2 separate regions of the Homo sapiens genome follow, and region 2 is linked to region 1. A link means that fine-mapping ties the variant in region 1 to the expression of a gene that starts in the linked region. Tissue or cell type: subcutaneous fat. Region 1 holds a variant in brackets; the other region holds the start of a gene. All regions are shown on one strand. Distances are between the middles of the regions.

Region 1 (8,101 bases):
CCACCAGAGGGCTCCTTGGTCTAGCGGTAACGCCAGTGCCTGGGAAGACGCCCGTTGCCAAGCGGACTGTGGTCTAGTGGTAGCGTCAGTGTCAAGGAAAAACACCCGCTACCTAGCAGACCGGGAAAGGGAGTCTCCCTTTCCCCGGGGGAGTTTAGAGAAGACTCTACTCCTCCACCTTTTGTGGAGGGCCTGACATGAGTCAGGCCCGCCTGCAGTTATCCGGAGGCCTAACCGTCTCCCTGTGATGCTGTGCCTCAGTGGTCACGCTCCTGGTCCGCTCTCATGTTCCACTCTGCACACCTGGCTCTGCCTTCTAGATAGCAGTAGCAAATTAGTGAAAGTATTAAAGTCTTTGATCTTTCTGAAAAGAGCATAGAAAAAATAATGGCATAAGCTGTCCTCTCTGTCTCTCTGACTCGGCTGCCAAACAGGGAAGGGCCCCCTGTCTGGTGGACACGTGACTCCGTGACCTTATCAATCAGTTGGATGACTCACAGTCTTTACCCTGCCCCTTTTGCTTTGTATCCAATAAATAACAGCGCAGCCTGGCATTCGGGGCCACTACTGGTCTCTGCGTCTTGGTGGTAGTGGTCCCCCGGTCCCAGCTGTCTTTTCTTTTATCTCTTTGTCTTGTGTCTCTTTTTCTACAATCTCTCATCTCTGCACATGGGGAGAAAAAACCCACAAACCCTGTAGGGCTGGCACCTACATAGAAGCTTTATTCAGAATTACCAGAAACGAGGTGACCAACATGTCCTTCAGTAGGTGAATTGAGAAATAAATTCTGGTACCTACAGACAATGGAATATCATTCAGTGAGAAAAGAAATGAGCTATCAAGTCATGAAAAGGCATACAGGGACCCAAAATGCACATTACTAAGTGAAAGAAGCCAAAAAGGCTACATACTGTATGATTCCAATTATGTGACATTTTGGAAAAGGAAAAACTACATAGAGAGTAAAATATCTATGTAATTACGTGACATTTTGGAAAAGGGAAAATTACATAGATAGTAAAATAATCAGTGGTCGACAGGGGTTGGGGAGAGGAAAGGATGGATGGGCAGAGAGCCCCGGATGTTTAGGGCAGTGAGATCACTGTGTGCGATTTCACCACAACAGTGGACCCACGACAGTGTGCAGATGCCAACACCCACTGAACGCAGACCACAAAAAGGTATTAATTACATAAACTATGAACTTTCATAATGAAGTAAATCACGTTTTAAAAAAGTAGACAGTTTTTTTTCAGTTATTGTCTACTTTCTGAAATGGAGATGGCGGAGTGCTTCCATGGTTGTGAGGATAAAAATAGCTTAGAGAATGTAATAACTAAAATAGGTGTGTAAACATTGTTAAACTATTTTATCCTCATTAAATATATTTGTAACTTTTTACAACTGAGCGAGTAGTGCAAACACATTAACATAATTCTCCTGTAGCTCCACTCAGAAGTCAGGACTGCAGGGCTTCAGTGCAGGGCCACACAGCTCCACACGCACCTGCCAAACGCAACAGCCTCTTTCAGCGTCATTAAAATATTTCAACAGGAGGACTGAGTTTAGACTCAACCTGTGTTTTCTCCCCTGGAAAACGAAGGTTTCATGAAGCAAGGAAGGTCTTTACTGTCCTCATCCGAAACGCTGAGGCATCTGTGATGTCTGCTGTAAGTGCCACCAGGCTCTCCGCTGAAATCTCGCAACGGGAAAATAGAGACCGTAGATTCTGCTTTTAGAAAGGGGAGAATCAGAAGTAATGTGGAAATGCCATGTCCTCGTTCATAAACATCTTCTTTTACAAATTCCACAAGTTTAGTTACTTTGGGATTAATATGGGCTTATCTTAAAGTGCGTTTATTAACTTAGCGTGAGTTGTTCAAATGCATTCTGGATCCTGAGCCGACATCCAGCAATGCTGAGTGTGCGCCTGTGTGAGTCACCAGCCCTGATGAGCCTCAGGTTATTGTGTTCGTAAAATGAAGGGGCTTAGGCTTGCTGCGATTTTTTAAAAACCATTTTTAACAGTAAAAATTTTTTTCTTGCTACATAAAAATGTACAAGAAAAACTCAGACATTACCAATGATAAATTATAATTTTATTAATATAAATATTTTTGTGAGCTCAATTTATATGACTTAGTTATTATAAAAGAAATAAGCAATATGAGGTGGCCATTACCATCCTGTCCCGTTTTATTTTGTTCATATGCTATTGATAAATCTTGATGTATACAGAAAAGTAGTTTCAAAGAATAATAATTTTTAAAAAGGACTTGTAATTTCAAGAGACTTTTAAAAAAATCTGCAATTGCTTTTTAAAGGTTCTAAAACAGTTGTCTATGCCTTAAAGCTAAATAACTACAAAGAGCTCACTCTTCTCACATTCTGTATTATAAATATGTAAGTCAGAGAAACAACAGACAAAATCATAAAAACACATGCATGAACAAATGGGCCTTGGTTTACATTTAATTGGATCTTGCAATACACATGGGTTATAGTAGTATTTCTGTGTGTAATTTTACATGAGTGGATTGCTATCAAAATAAAAATTGTCTACAATCTCTTTTCAGTGGTAAATTTGCACAAATGGTAAACATACACATAGAGATAGTGGGAGAAATTTATTTCGTGGCTTGCAAGAAGACAGGTTAAGTTGGGACATTTAATTGTTTCATTAATGCTACATTTTAAATGCACTTGTATGGGCATGGTATTTTAATGTATTATTATGACTTTTAAATGCTCAATGTTACAGATGGAATATTAGAGCAAGTACTAACTTATATCTTCTTTGTGTGTGCTTTGGAGGCATCAGGAAATAAAGCAGCCCTTTTCCCTTTTCCCAGAAGCTGTGCTTCTGCAGATTAGATCTCTCTGTAACACACACACACCCATGCACGCATGAGCGCACACACACGCGCACACACACGAGCACACGCACGCGCAGGCACACACATGCACACACACGCACACGCACACACACGTGCACACATACACCCAATATAGCCTTTAGGGTTAAAAGGAGGAAAAGAGAATTTGCCTGGATAACTCTTACCCAGGTATTTTCTGGGGAGATCTAGAATAATCTAAGGGGGTAAGCTGGACTAGCCAATGGGAAATCAAAACGAAGATACTGGAGAGATGTTCCCAGAAAAGGAGCATTCCTAATGGGCTTGGCCCTAGTCACATGCAATTCCCCAGATGTGGTTGGTGTGGCCAAGGTTCCAGCATTTGTCAGCTGCTTTCTTGCCACTTCTTGTGCTGTGAGGAGTATCCCCTCCCCAATGCCAGAGGCAGTCGTCCTCTAACCCCCTTCAGAGTAAAGGGCCAGCAATTGGCAGTCACAGGAAAAGTAGTGAGACAGGAAGGTGCGGAGCATGAAGTCCCACCATACCGGCCTCCAGTGTCTGGCACAGAATATGACGAGGAACCTCCGTGAATTGGAATCTTCCACATCTTGATATATGGGAGTTTCTGCTAGATATAATTTGACTTAAAAAAGAAAGAAATATGACCTTCTTCACCTAAATATTGTAGAAGAGGTAATGATTGCAACCTGGATGTTTTACATTCTGAGATGCTATTAAACCAATATTCATCACAAATGTATTGATAATTTTTTAGAAGAACAGAAGAGATCCCATCATATTAAATGAAGTGTATCAATTAT[A/T]AGATGCATGCTAACTCCAGAAAAAGCAAAGCATGAAAAAAATCTGTCTTAGAATGGAAAAATACAGTAGTTAAACTATTTTTAACTGGAATTTAAATGCAACATTTTAGGATATGAAGCTGTCAACTCATTTTGAAAACTGCTGGCTCAGATGACCTCAGCGATAGGAAACCTCTAAAAGATCATGAATCTAATCAGGTAATTTTCTGTGCCTTTGCCTGAGAGTCTAGCTGAAAGTGGTGCAGTTTTTACAGAAGAGGAATAACGTGTCCCGAACTGGGAACCCTTCACCGGCCACCACTCCAGGCGGCGCTTCACTGTGGAGTTTTGGTCGCCAGAGGGCTCCAGGGGACTGCTGGGGAAGGCCAGGACATGGAAGAGGGCCTAGAGCCAGGGTTACCCGGGAGGGGGTGGACCCATTTTGCCAAGCACCTGAGGACCATACCGTACAGGATCCTCTCAAAACCACCCGCACACTAGGTGGGAATAAAGGATAAGAGAAATTAATGTGTGCTTAGCATGTGAGAGCTGACATTCAGAGTCAGCCTGAGCAAAGAGATTCATACGGAAGGACGAAGCGCATGTTGTGAGACAAAGAACACCCAATTATAAGATAGAAAACCTTGGTTCTGGGAAATTCCTGAACCTGTTTGCCCATCCATGAAAGAGTAAGAGTGATACTACCTTCTCCACCTTATTCTTGTAACAGAACTGCCCGTTTCTTTCGTGCCCACAGCTAAGTGTTTAATAGGAACAATGTGACAAATATAAGGTCATTGCTCTTACACAAAAGGTTCAAGAAAACTGAGAAAGATCTAAAAATTCCCAAAGGAATGATTTTTCAAAGTACAACATCTTAATTTACATAGAGAGAAATAATACATTTTGTCTCAAATAAAGATTTGGCCACATCCTAAGTATAGCATTGAAGAGCAGTTAAGCTATTTCTTCAAAGAAAATATATCAAAATTAAACCTGTACTTTTTGAGTGTGAATTCTAACACACAAACCTGGTGCAATATATTTAAAACAAAGCAGAGATTAATTAATTAATTAATGATTCCCCATCACCATTTTCAGAAAACCCAGTAACTTAGTGCCTTAAGATGTTCAAATCATCCCAAAAACTTGAGTTACTAAATATTTTCAAAACCCTTTCTCAAGCTTTGCTATTCTAGCTTTAGTTGGAAGAAGAAGCTTCCAAGTTAAAGATGGTAGACGAAATACTGACCCAGTTGTGTCCTTTCCCTCCTGAGAAACCATGGTGGCTATCCACGATGGAGAGAGAGCAGCGGAGACAAAAAGTGATTTGATGGCCTCGCATCCGTGAGAAGGAGCATCATCTGTGGACCTTCCTGGGGGTGAGGGGCAGAGAAGTGAGGCAGGCATCAGAAAACAGGAGGGTCGATTAAAATCTGTACATTGACAGTCAACCCTCATTATCCTCCCTCACCGATGCCAGCACCCCACCCCTCGGGTAACCAGTGAGTAGAACACCAACAACCAACAAGCAAGCAGCTGCCTTCCAGAGAGGAGAGGAGAAGGTTTTCTCCAGAGGAAGGAAACCATCCAGACCAAAGGCATCACTTACTAACATGCGGAAACCCCATCGACTCCCCGAAGCAAAACCTCTAGACGAGCCTTTCACTAATGATAACACACTCATTCTCCTTCACGTGTTACTATTAAATGTGAACAGTGAAGAATCACCACCTAGACGAGCCTTTCACTAATGATAACACACTCATTCTCCTTCATGTGTTACTATTAAATGTGAACAGTGAAGAATCACCACCTAGACGAGCCTTTCACTAATGATAACACAGACTCATTCTCCTTCTTCACGTGTCACTATTAAATGTGAACAGTGAAGAATCACCATCTAGACGAGCCTTTCACTAATGATAACACAGACTCATTCTCCTTCTTCACGTGTCACTATTAAATGTGAACAGTGAAGAATCACCATCTAGACGAGCCTTTCACTAATGATAACACAGACTCATTCTCCTTCATGTGTTACTATTAAATGTGAACAGTGAAGAATCACCACCTAGACGAGCCTTTCACTAATGATAACACAGACTCATTCTCCTTCATGTGTTACTATTAAATGTGAACAATGAAGAATCACCATCTAGACAAGCCTTTCACTAATGATAACACAGACTCATTCTCCTTCTTCACGTGTCACTATTAAATGTGAACAGTGAAGAATCACCATCTAGACGAGCCTTTCACTAATGATAACACAGACTCATTCTCCTTCTTCACGTGTCACTATTAAATGTGAACAATGAAGAATCACCAGACATTGAAGGGAAACCCATCTCAATGGGAAAAAAGACCAAGGTAAACCAGCAGGCGGAATGATTGTTGAGAACCTAACATCATAGCAAAATAAGAAATAAGAGTTTTATATTATCATTCACTTAGTGGCACTGTCTGAGGTTTCACTATACAAATATATTGCTTTGATATGTGTGTGTATATATACATACATATATATATATATATATATATATATATTTTTTTTTTTTTCTGAGTCTCGCTTTGTTGCCCAGACTGGAGTACAGTGGTGTAATCTTGGTTCACTGCAACCAAGGTCTCCCGGGTTCAAGCGATTCTCCTGCCAATTTTCATCTTTTAAGTGGAGACAGGGTTTTGCCATGTTGGCCAGGCTGGTCTCAAACTTCTGACCTCAGGTGATCTGCCCGCCTTGACCTCCCAAAGTGCTGGGATTATAGGCATGATAGAGTTTTAACTATTAGAAGAAACCAGAGGAAGCTACCATTGGAATAGATGAAACATCAGCAATACATTAAAATATCAGCAATTTCACATGTTCGAGATTACTTTTAAAAAATAAAAAGAGAACAGAATTGATTTAGTTTCTAGGCCAGCAACCAAGGAAAAAGCAAGGAATGGAAGATTTTATAATCGCATAACAATAGCAAGATCTTACATTTCTATTGAGCTTTAAAGATTACAGGCCAGGCACGGTGGCTCACGCCTGTAATCCCAGCACTTTGGGAGGCTGAGGTGGGCGGATCACAAGGTCAGGAGTTCAAGACCAGCGACCAGCCTGGTCAATATGGTGAAACCCTGTCTCTACTAAAAATACAAAAATTAGCTGGGCGTGGTGGCGGGTGCCTGTAGTCCCAGCTAGTCGGGGGGCTGAGGTGGGAGAATCGCTTGAACCCAGGAGGCAGAGGTTGCAGTGAGCTGAGATTGTGCCATTGCACTCCAGCCTGGGTGACAGAGCAAGACTCTGTCTCCTAAATAAATACATAAATAAAAATACAAAAATTAGCAGGGCGGGGTGGCACACGCCTCTAATCCCAGCTACTCGGGAGGCCGAGACATGAGAATCTCTTGAACCTAGGAGGCAGAGGTTGCAGTGAGCCAAGATTGTACCACTGCACTCCATCCTGGGCAACAGATTGAGACGCTGTCTCAAAAAAAAAAAAAAGAAAGAAAGAAAGTAGAAAAACTTCAAATAAACCACCTAACAATGCATCTTAAAGAACTAGAAGAGCGAGCCAGGCGCGGTGGCTCATGCCTGTAATCCCAGCACTTTGGGAGGCTGAGACGGGTGGATTGCTTGAGGTCAGGAGTTCAAGACCAGCCTGGCCAACATATTGAAACCCTGTCTCTACCAAAAATACAAAAAATTAGCTGGGTGTGGTGCCAGGCACCTGTAATCCCAGCTACTCAGGAGGCTGAGGCAGGAGAATTGCTCGAACCCAGGAGGCAGAGGTTGCAGTGAGCGGAGATGGCACCACTGCACTCCAGCCTGGGTGACAGAGTGAGAATCAGTCTCAAAAAAAAAAAAAAAAGAAAAGAAAAGAAAGAACGAGAAAAGCAAGAGCAAGTCAAACCCAAAATCAGAAGAAAACAAATAATAAAGATCAGAGCAGAAATAAATGAAATTGAAATAAAAAAAAATCAAAAAAACAAAAAAGTTTGTTTTTTGAAAAGATAAACAAAATTGACAAACCTTTAGCCAGACTAAGAAAAAAAGAAAAAAGACTCAAATAGATAAAATCAGAAATGTAAAAGGAGGCATTACAACGGATACTGCAGAGATTCAAAGGCTCACTAGAGACTTCTATGAAAACTATATGTTGCTAATAAATTGGAAAACCTAGAAGTGGATAAATTCCTAGACATATTCAACCTACTGTGATTGAACCACGAAGAAATCCAAAACCTGAACAGACCAATAACTAATAATGAAATCAAAGCCATAATCAAAAGTCTCCCAGTAAAGAAAAGCCCAGGACCTGAAGGCTTCACTGCTGAATTTTACCAAATATTTAAATAACTAATACCAATCCTGTTCAAACTATTCCAAAAAATAGAGGAGGAGGGGATACTTCCAAACTCATCCTACAAGGTTAATATTACCTTGATACCAAACCA
Region 2 (8,101 bases), 210 kb before region 1:
GTCCGTTCATGCAGCAAGCCACATTCTGAATACACCAAGCCAGCCCTTGCAAACCCACAGGAAGCACGGGGTGGCTTTTTAGAGGCACGAGGATCCTTAGATGAAGGGATATGACCCTGGGCCGACACAAGTGCCATTCCGGGTTCAATCACCCTCCTTCCCCCGTCTTCCCAGGCCTCTTTCTCAAACACGTCTTTATGGCTTTTCTTTTTTTTTTAGACAGAGTCTTGCTCTGTCACCCAAGCTAGAGTGCTGCCATTTCGGCTCCCTGCAACCTCTGCCTCCCAGGTTCAAGCCATTCTCCTACCTCAGCCTCCCGAGTAGCTGGAATTACAGGCGCTCGCCACCACGCCCGGCAAAATTTTTTATTTTTAGTGGAGACAGGGTTGGCCAAGCTGGTCTTGAACTCCTGACCTCAGGTGATCCACCCGCCTGGGCCTCCAAAAGTGCTGGGATTACAGCGTGAGCCACCGCGCCCGGCCCTTTATGCCTTTTCTACTTTACACCAGATGCTGTCTCGTTTCATCCTCATGACAACCCTACGTAGTAGCCCCTTCCCCCTGGGCTCAGTTTGCCGATGAAGAGCCTAAGACTCCAGAGCCAAAAGGCGTTGCCTGTGTTCCCTGGGCTGCCAAGGGCGTCGCTGATGCTGGACCTCTGAGTTTCAGCCCCTGCTCTTCCCTGTGCACCTTGCTGGTCGTTGGCCAAAATTTGGCTGATGTTCCTGGCAGGACCTCTTGTCCAGGGATCCTTTCCTTTTGAGTGTCCTGGAGCACAGTGGGGTTTCCCAGAGGGGCAGAGGGGTCTGTGGAGAGTTTTGGTGTCCTCGGTGGCAAGTTGAGGTGGCCTGTCCCAGACTGACAGATAGACCGGGGGTTCTCCGAGGAGGGGCCCATAAAGACCCTTCCCCGTGGAGTGCGCTGTGGCCGGCGTCCCCTCCCCTGCCTGCCCTGCACTTGCTCCAGCCTGTCACCTCCCTGGGGTCACTGATAGTGCTGGAGACCAAGGCCTATTTCGACCCAGTTGCCTTTCCCTGTGGCATGGAACCAGGACGGCCAGGCTTCCTTCTGAGTCATTCCTGCCTGGGGCGACCAGTAGACACCAAATTTCCATCTGTCCTTGTCTAGCCCACCTCTGTCTGCTGTGCCTTATCCTTTAACCCTTGAGAGCCAGGGCTGTTCCTTAAGGAAACCCTCATTGCGGCAGCTCCTTTGTGGAAACCCTGTGTTTTTCCTCTGGCCTGGGCTTCAGTGTGACCCAGCCTGGGTGAGGGTCCTGCCGGCAAGTGTGCAAACAGACCCTAGACTCAAGTATAGGCAGGTCATCTGTAAACCCCTTCAGGGAGCCAAAAGGAACGGGGCTGGCTGGCTGCCAGTCCTCCAGCAGCTGCCCTGTGGGGGTGGGGGCTGCCCACCCGCCCTTGGTGACTGCTTTTCCTGCCAAGGCCCTGGTCATGCCCGGTCAGATGTGTGGGTGCCATCTCCCAGCCACGACCATCTCCTCTCCTGGCCCAGCTCCACTTGGTCCCCTTAGCGACGCAAAGGACTCAGCGCTCCACGACATGCCTAGCTTCTTCGGGTCGTCATGGAGACGCCCTTGCACACCAACAGTCCTTCACTCCTTCTCCGGGTCACGCCCCCGTGCTTTTCCACGCCCACCCCAGGTCTTGCCCCTCTGCGCTCCTCTCCACAGACCCCACTTCCTGGCTCCACATGGAGCTGAGTGTCCAGCTGGTACCCAGCACATTTGGGCTCAGCTTTAAATCACAGATTTGGAAACTCAAGAACTTGGGCGTCAGGAGGTCCAACCGTTCACCACTGCTTTTTACACAGGGGACCGGGGCCCTGGGGAGACACGGGGCAGGGCCTGGTCACAGGGGCCAGAACAGTTCACGGCAAAGACTTGGCCCTGGGGCTCCTAAATCCAAGCTGCCTCCCCGGCGCCCCAAGCCCCAGCCTCGCTCTGGGAGTCATGATTCCCGTGGAGACTCCTTCAACCACATCTGCAGGGCAGGGCCGTGTGGCGGCTCCTTCCGGCCTCCACGTCCTCACGGTGGGATGAGCACTGGAGCGGGGTTGTGTGGCCAGGGTGGGGTGGGGGTGCTGGAGGGTGGGGAGGTGTAGGGAGGTGGTGGCAGTTTCCTTTGCCCTCAGCCTAGTCCTGAAACATCCCGAGGTGGAAGGGTCCGCTTCACCAGCATGGCTTCTCTTGCAGCCTTTAAACGGCACTCGCCTTCTGACTCACTCCCAGGAAGCTCCTCAAATATGCGCCCAAGAAATATTTTCCCTCGGCGACTGTTCTTAGCCTGCTGAGAGGCAGGGCAGGAGCTGAGACTCTAACCCCAGCTTGAACTCTGGACCCCAGACTCTCCCCCAAAGACTCAGACACCCAGAAACACAGAATAAAACTTGGTCCTGAAGCCAGAGGGACAGCCTGGAAAGTGTGGGGAAGAGGACGGGGGCCCCCGAGGGAACATCTCCCACAGGCCTGGCATCCCTCCCCTCCCAGCTCTGTACACGGAGGAGCCCAAGGCCAATGCCGGGGCTACGAGCCCCAGGCAAGGCCGTGACCCAAATGGAGGCTTTTAAACCCGAGCTCAGAGGTAAGAAGCCCACGGCCAGCACCTCCCGGCCCTCTGCGCCCTGGCCGCCTCCTCCGCACCACCCTCCCGGCCGGCCTGCCCCTCTCCTCCTTGTCGCTTCCCTTGCTTGCTGCTGTCTCCCGATCTTCTCCTCTCTCCATTCCCAGGGTCCTCAGTTTGTCTGCGTCTCACCTGTCTCGTCCTCTCACCCTGCAGCTTTACATGAGTTTTCTTCCGTCTCCATCACCCAGCTTTCCTGGCATCCCCTCTACCCCCAGCTCTGTACACAAGGGTGTACATCTTTCTCCTTGACTCTGTTCCTCTTGCTCTGGCTCTGCCTGTCTTTCTCTCTGCGAGTAAGCCTGGGCTCTCACCATGGATCCTTCCAGACATCGCCGGGCTGCTCTCTGGCCCTCTGTTCTCTTTTCTCTCTCTTTCGAGCATTCTCCCTCTGTCTTTCCCCTCAGATCTTGTCCCGTATCTGCCAGTTCATGCCTCCTCTTCCCCACTTTTCTCCTCTTCTTATTTTTTATTTTATTTTATATTTATTTATTTATTTATTTATTTATTTATTTATTTATTTATTTTGAGACAGAGTCTCGCTCTCTCTCCCAGGCTGGAGTGCAGTGGCGCGATCTTGGCTCACTGCAACCTCCACCTCCCAGGTTCAAGTGATTCTCCTGCCTCAGACTCCTGAGTAGCTGGAATTACAGGTGGGGCCCACCACGACCGGCTAATTTTTGTATATTTAGTAGAGACGGGGTTTCACCATGTCGGCCAGGCTGGTCTCGAACTCCTGACCTCAGGTGATCTCCTGCCTTGGCCTCCGAAAGTGCTGGGATTACAGGCATGAGCCACCGCGCACGGCCTCCACTCTTCTTTCTCTCTCCCTCTTCTCTTCCTCTTCTTTCCCTCTCTGGGTCTCTCTCCACCTTCCCCCCATGTTGTCCCATTCATCTCTTTCTCCTTTCCCTCTCCCTCTTTTTCTCTCCCTTCTCTTCCTCTTCGCTGTCTCCCTTTCCCCTATTCTCTCTCTCTCTCTCTCTGTCTCCCCGGACCTCTTTCTCTGACAGCTCCCACCTCCCCCAAGTGCTCCCCGCAGCCAGCCTCATCTGCTGTCTCCATCACTTACCTGGGACCACATGCGGAAGGAGGCAGAGACACAGGCAGCTCAGGGACACCCAGGGGACCCTCCTCCAGCGTGCCCCCTTCATGGCTGCGGCAAAAGTCCCCCTGGCTCCCTGGGGAAGCTCCACGGCCCAGCAGCTGCAGTGTGAGGAGCAGACGTGAGCCCGTCCCCTCAGGCGGCTGGCCCGAACCAAGTGCGTTTCTCCGAAGGGGCCAGGGAACCTGGGAAGAGGACAAAAGAGGGCGGGGCCCCACGCTAATCACCCTTTTCTCTCCTCAGCCCCACCCCACTACCCCACCAGGAAAGAAAACACCGATACACCCGTTGCTCTGCTTCTCATCAGCCTGAGCTGAGTGGCGGGAGGGATGGGAGGAGACATGGGGGAATGGGAACAGGTCACACTGGAAATGGGTGGGCCACCCTCCTAGCCGGGTTCCTGGGTCCTCTCCTCCCTCCCCAGGGGCTGCCCCTGTCCCACCAGAGCTTTGGGCTGCTGGGAAGAATGGGGAAGAAAGGGCCCCAGAGGGAGCGACCTTGGGGCTGTATGAATGGGGGAAAGAGAGTGAGACTTAAGCAGACCCCAAGGAATTGGGAAGCGGGGAACCATGTGGGTGAGGGGCAGGAACAGAAATGCACTGTATGCCGTCTTTTGGAAAGGGGTGGTGTGCTTGGAATATCTGCTCAGTGCAGGCGCGTGGCAGACCCCAGACGCGTGGCAGACCCCAGACGCGTGGCAGACCCCAGACGCGTGGCAGAACCTCAGTGCAGATGCGTGGCAGACCCCAGACGCACGGCAGATCCCAGACACATGGCAGACCCCAGACCCATGGCAGACTCCAGACGCGTGGCAGACCCCAGACGCGTGGCAGACTCCAGACGCATGGCAGAACCTCAGTGCAGACTCGTGGCAGAACCTCAGTGCAGACGCATGGCAGACCCCAGATGCGTGGCAGACCCTCACCAGATGGTGGACTTCTTCTTTCCAGGGCAGGGAGCTGGAGCCAGGGTGCAGGGAGCCAGGGACAGTCTGGGAGACTGGCCTGAGGGAGCTGGCATGGGCAGTGGGTTGAAGGCAGAACCTCGGTAGGAGGAAGCGACTGTAACCTGTGAGGAGGTGGAGCTGCTCCTGGAGACCTGGGGGCTCTGCTCACCCCAGTTCCACCTCTTGGAACTCACAGGCACAAGCGAGGAGGGAAAGGGACCCCAAGTAGGGTTGTAAAGACGAAGAGGGCAGTTGGTGTAGCTCTCTGCAAAGGAAAACGGGGATACCTCCGCTCCCCTCTTTGCCACAGTGTGAATCTCTGCTTCTGATTCCTCAAGACTTGATTCCCGAATGTGGGGTGTCTGTGGGGTGACTCGTCCCAGAGCAGGGACCTTCGATGCTCAGACACTGTGGGGCCCAGGACAAGGACTCAGGGTTTCTGCATTCCCAAGCAGAGCCAGCCTTGTCCAGCAAGGAGTAGGCAACCGACGCTGTGGCGCTGTCTCCGAGGGTCACGGAGGCCCTGTGACCACTTGCTTCTAGAAGCTGAAAGTCTGTTCATGGCCCCAGGCCAAAGCCTGGGCCACGCCATAATAATGCGGATACCGTGGGGAAGTGGCGTGGTCCCCCAACAGTCCCTCCAGCTCTGGGTGGACGAGCTGACCCTGTTCTTTCCTGGAGGTAAGAAAATCATAAAGGTAAAGAGTCATGTGGAGCATCCTGTGGGCGCCTGGACGGGGCAGCAGGAGGGACCTACTGCAGGGAATTCGCAGACACCAAGGCCCAGCTTGGCCTTCGTGATCATTTTGCACTTTTTTTTTTTTTTGAGATGGAGTCTTGCTCTGTCGCCCAGGCTGGAGTGCAGTGGCACCATCTCAGCTCACTGCAAGCTCCGCCTCCCGGGTTCACGCCATTCCCCTGCCTCAGCCTCCCTAGTAGCTGGGACTACAGGCACCTGCCACCACGCCCGGCTAATTTTTTTTGTATTTTTAGTAGGGACGAGGTTTCACCATGTTGGCCAGGTTGGTCTCGAACCCCTGAACTCAGATGATCCGCCCGCCTTGGCCTCCCAAAGTGCTGGGATTACAGGCGTGAGCCACTGCACCCGGCCCGTGGTCATTTTTCTGTCAGCTCTTGCTCGTGGGTCCCCCCATTACCTTTCCACAGGTTTTGTTTGGTGACGCTTTCAGGACAACAGTTTTCCATCTCTAGAGGAGAAAGGAGCATCCAGGTGAGACCAAACTAAGCGCTGGACATCTTGTTGACCGAACACAGGTAGCTGACCTCTTTCCCATGCCAGGAAGGCCAGAGGCACACAGCGCTCTCCGGAAGCTGCTGTGACGGCCGAGACTCCAGGAGGGCGTTACAAACCTGGGCTTGATCCCAGCTCTGCCACCGCGTCACCACAAAGTCACAGCCTCTTCGAGCTGTTTTCCTCGTTCACCTGTAAAATGGGGATAACACCTATCTGAAAGGTTGTAGGGTGGGAGTGAGCCTGTAGATGCTGAGGGGCTGCGGGAGTATTAGGACACCTGTTGTGAGGACACCTGTTGTTACGACACCTGTTGTGAGGACACCTGTTGTGGAGGACACCTGTGGAGGAACGTGGCTCCTCCTTCCATCCGGGCATCATCCCTGGAGGGAGACACAAACGAGGGCCAGCCAGGATACAGGAGGAGTCCGGAAGTGAATTTCCAGGCCCAGGTCTTTCCTGCGTCCCCTTTGAGTCTTATAGGATCCTGATTAGGAGCGTGAGATCCTGGAGAACTGGGCGTGCGCACTCCTGTTCACCTCTTCCCTGCCCACGCCCGTTTCCCTTCTGCTTTCCAGCTCCCCTCAATATGCCCATTTTCCAGAGTTAGGATGTGTCTGGGTCTCTGTGATAAATGGCTCTGTCTTCATCTGGGTTGGGTCACGGGACACCCATTTGTCCTTCCTTCTCTCCTCCCAAGGCATCCGATGGGGACAGAATGGGGTGAATGAGAGGGGACAAAATGAGTGGCTTCTCTAGTTCCTTGTGGCCGAAAAACCTCCTAGGCCCGCATACTGCTGGGTCTGCATAGGGGCAGGAGTCTGAAGTCAGGTGTAAGTTAATATTCCACGGGAGGCAGGAAGAGCTTAGTGTGGATGTGGGGTGTAAGTAAATTGGAGCAAGGATAAGATCATGAGATTCTCCCAGACTTGGCTTGAAGAGACAGCTGGGTTTGAGGCAGCAAAGCCAGGATCTCCAAGAGAGATTCCCCTTCTAAGCTACCCAAGTAGGAGTCCCTAGTTTTTTGGGTCCCCTAAAATTGCTTACCTTTATATCATTTATGCCTCGTGCTGTGAATAAAGTTCAATCTTGTCAGACTTAGGACAACTAGGCTGATCTCGAGCAGGAAGCTGGATGTTTATTAAGTCTGATTTACCTACTCAGTCTGGACTAAAAAGGTGTGTGGATTCCCTAGTCAGTGACCCAGCATGAAGCCGGTCACTAGAGTGCCAGGCCCTGAGCCTGTCCCCATGGCCCTGTGAAGTACAAAGCGCTGCCCTACCTCTCAAGTGAGCACGCTGAGGCTCCAGGAGCTTCATCATCCCCGAGTCACCGGCCAGGTCGGGCCATCTAGGGAAACTGGAGAGTGTTAACTCCGCAGTTACAGCCTTCTGGGCCACACACTGTCCCAAAGCTGGAATTTGAGCTCTGTTCTGCCTGGCTCCAAAGCAAAAGAAGGGCAATCACCTGGGCTGACCGCCCACGACATCCTTCGCTCCGGGTCCTTTCCCGGTGGCAGGTGGAGACGGCCTTTTGGAGGGGCCTCGCTGTCCAGCTGCAAGGATAGTGGTTAGTGGACAGCTCCCAGCTGCTGGCCCCTGCAGGGTGGGCCTTGCTTTTATGCTGAGCTCATGCTCTTCTCCAGGTGACCCTGTGGCCGATGACTAAGCAAAGTGGCATCACAGTGACCTCACCATTTCCACCCCACAAGACTCCGCCAACAGGCAGTCTGCCCCTCAGAGCGCCCCATGGGCAGGAGCTTTGTGGCTGTGTCAGCTGTGCCACATCCTCCTGCCCAGCCCGGCCTCCTTCTTCTTACACAGGTGCCACATCCTCCTGCCCAGCCCGGCCTCCTTCTCCTTACGCAGGTGCCACATCCTCCTGCCCAGCCCGGCCTCCTTCTCCTTACGCAGGTGCCACATCCTCCTGCCCAGCCCGGCCTCCTTCTCCTTACGCAGGTGCCACATCCTCCTGCCCAGCCCGGCCTCCTTCTCCTTACGCAGGTGCCACATCCTCCTGCCCAGCCCGGCCTCCTTCTCCCTACGCAGGTGCCACATCCTCCTGCCCAGCCCGGCCTCCTTCTCCTTACGCAGGTGCCACATCCTCCTGCCCAGCCCGGCCTCCTTCTCCTTACGCAGGTGCCACATCCTCCTGCCC

Evidence for each region. PIP is the estimated chance that this variant, and not a neighbour inherited with it, causes the effect.
Region 2: it holds the start of MUC4, and the variant in region 1 is fine-mapped to the expression of MUC4 in subcutaneous fat (GTEx, PIP above 0.99).

Annotation. Positions count from the first base shown.
Region 1 is chr3:196,022,230-196,030,330 of GRCh38, forward strand. It overlaps LOC124909478 (a long non-coding RNA gene), which reads right to left. Exons shown (of 5, transcript XR_007096234.1): 2 at 4,908-5,031; 3 at 1,577-1,729. Among named protein-coding and RNA genes, the nearest start is that of TFRC, 56 kb to the right of the region's middle. The variant A/T (reference allele first, on the strand shown) is at 3,677.
Region 2 is chr3:195,808,023-195,816,123 of GRCh38, forward strand. MUC4 (mucin 4, cell surface associated) reads right to left here and starts at 3,907. Exons shown (of 25, transcript NM_018406.7): 1 at 3,714-3,907. The coding sequence starts at 3,795. It overlaps LOC124905352 (vegetative cell wall protein gp1-like), which reads left to right and starts at 7,683. Exons shown (of 3, transcript XM_047449429.1): 1 at 7,683-8,101. The coding sequence starts at 7,693. RefSeq lists enhancers at 1,040-1,603, 1,604-2,167.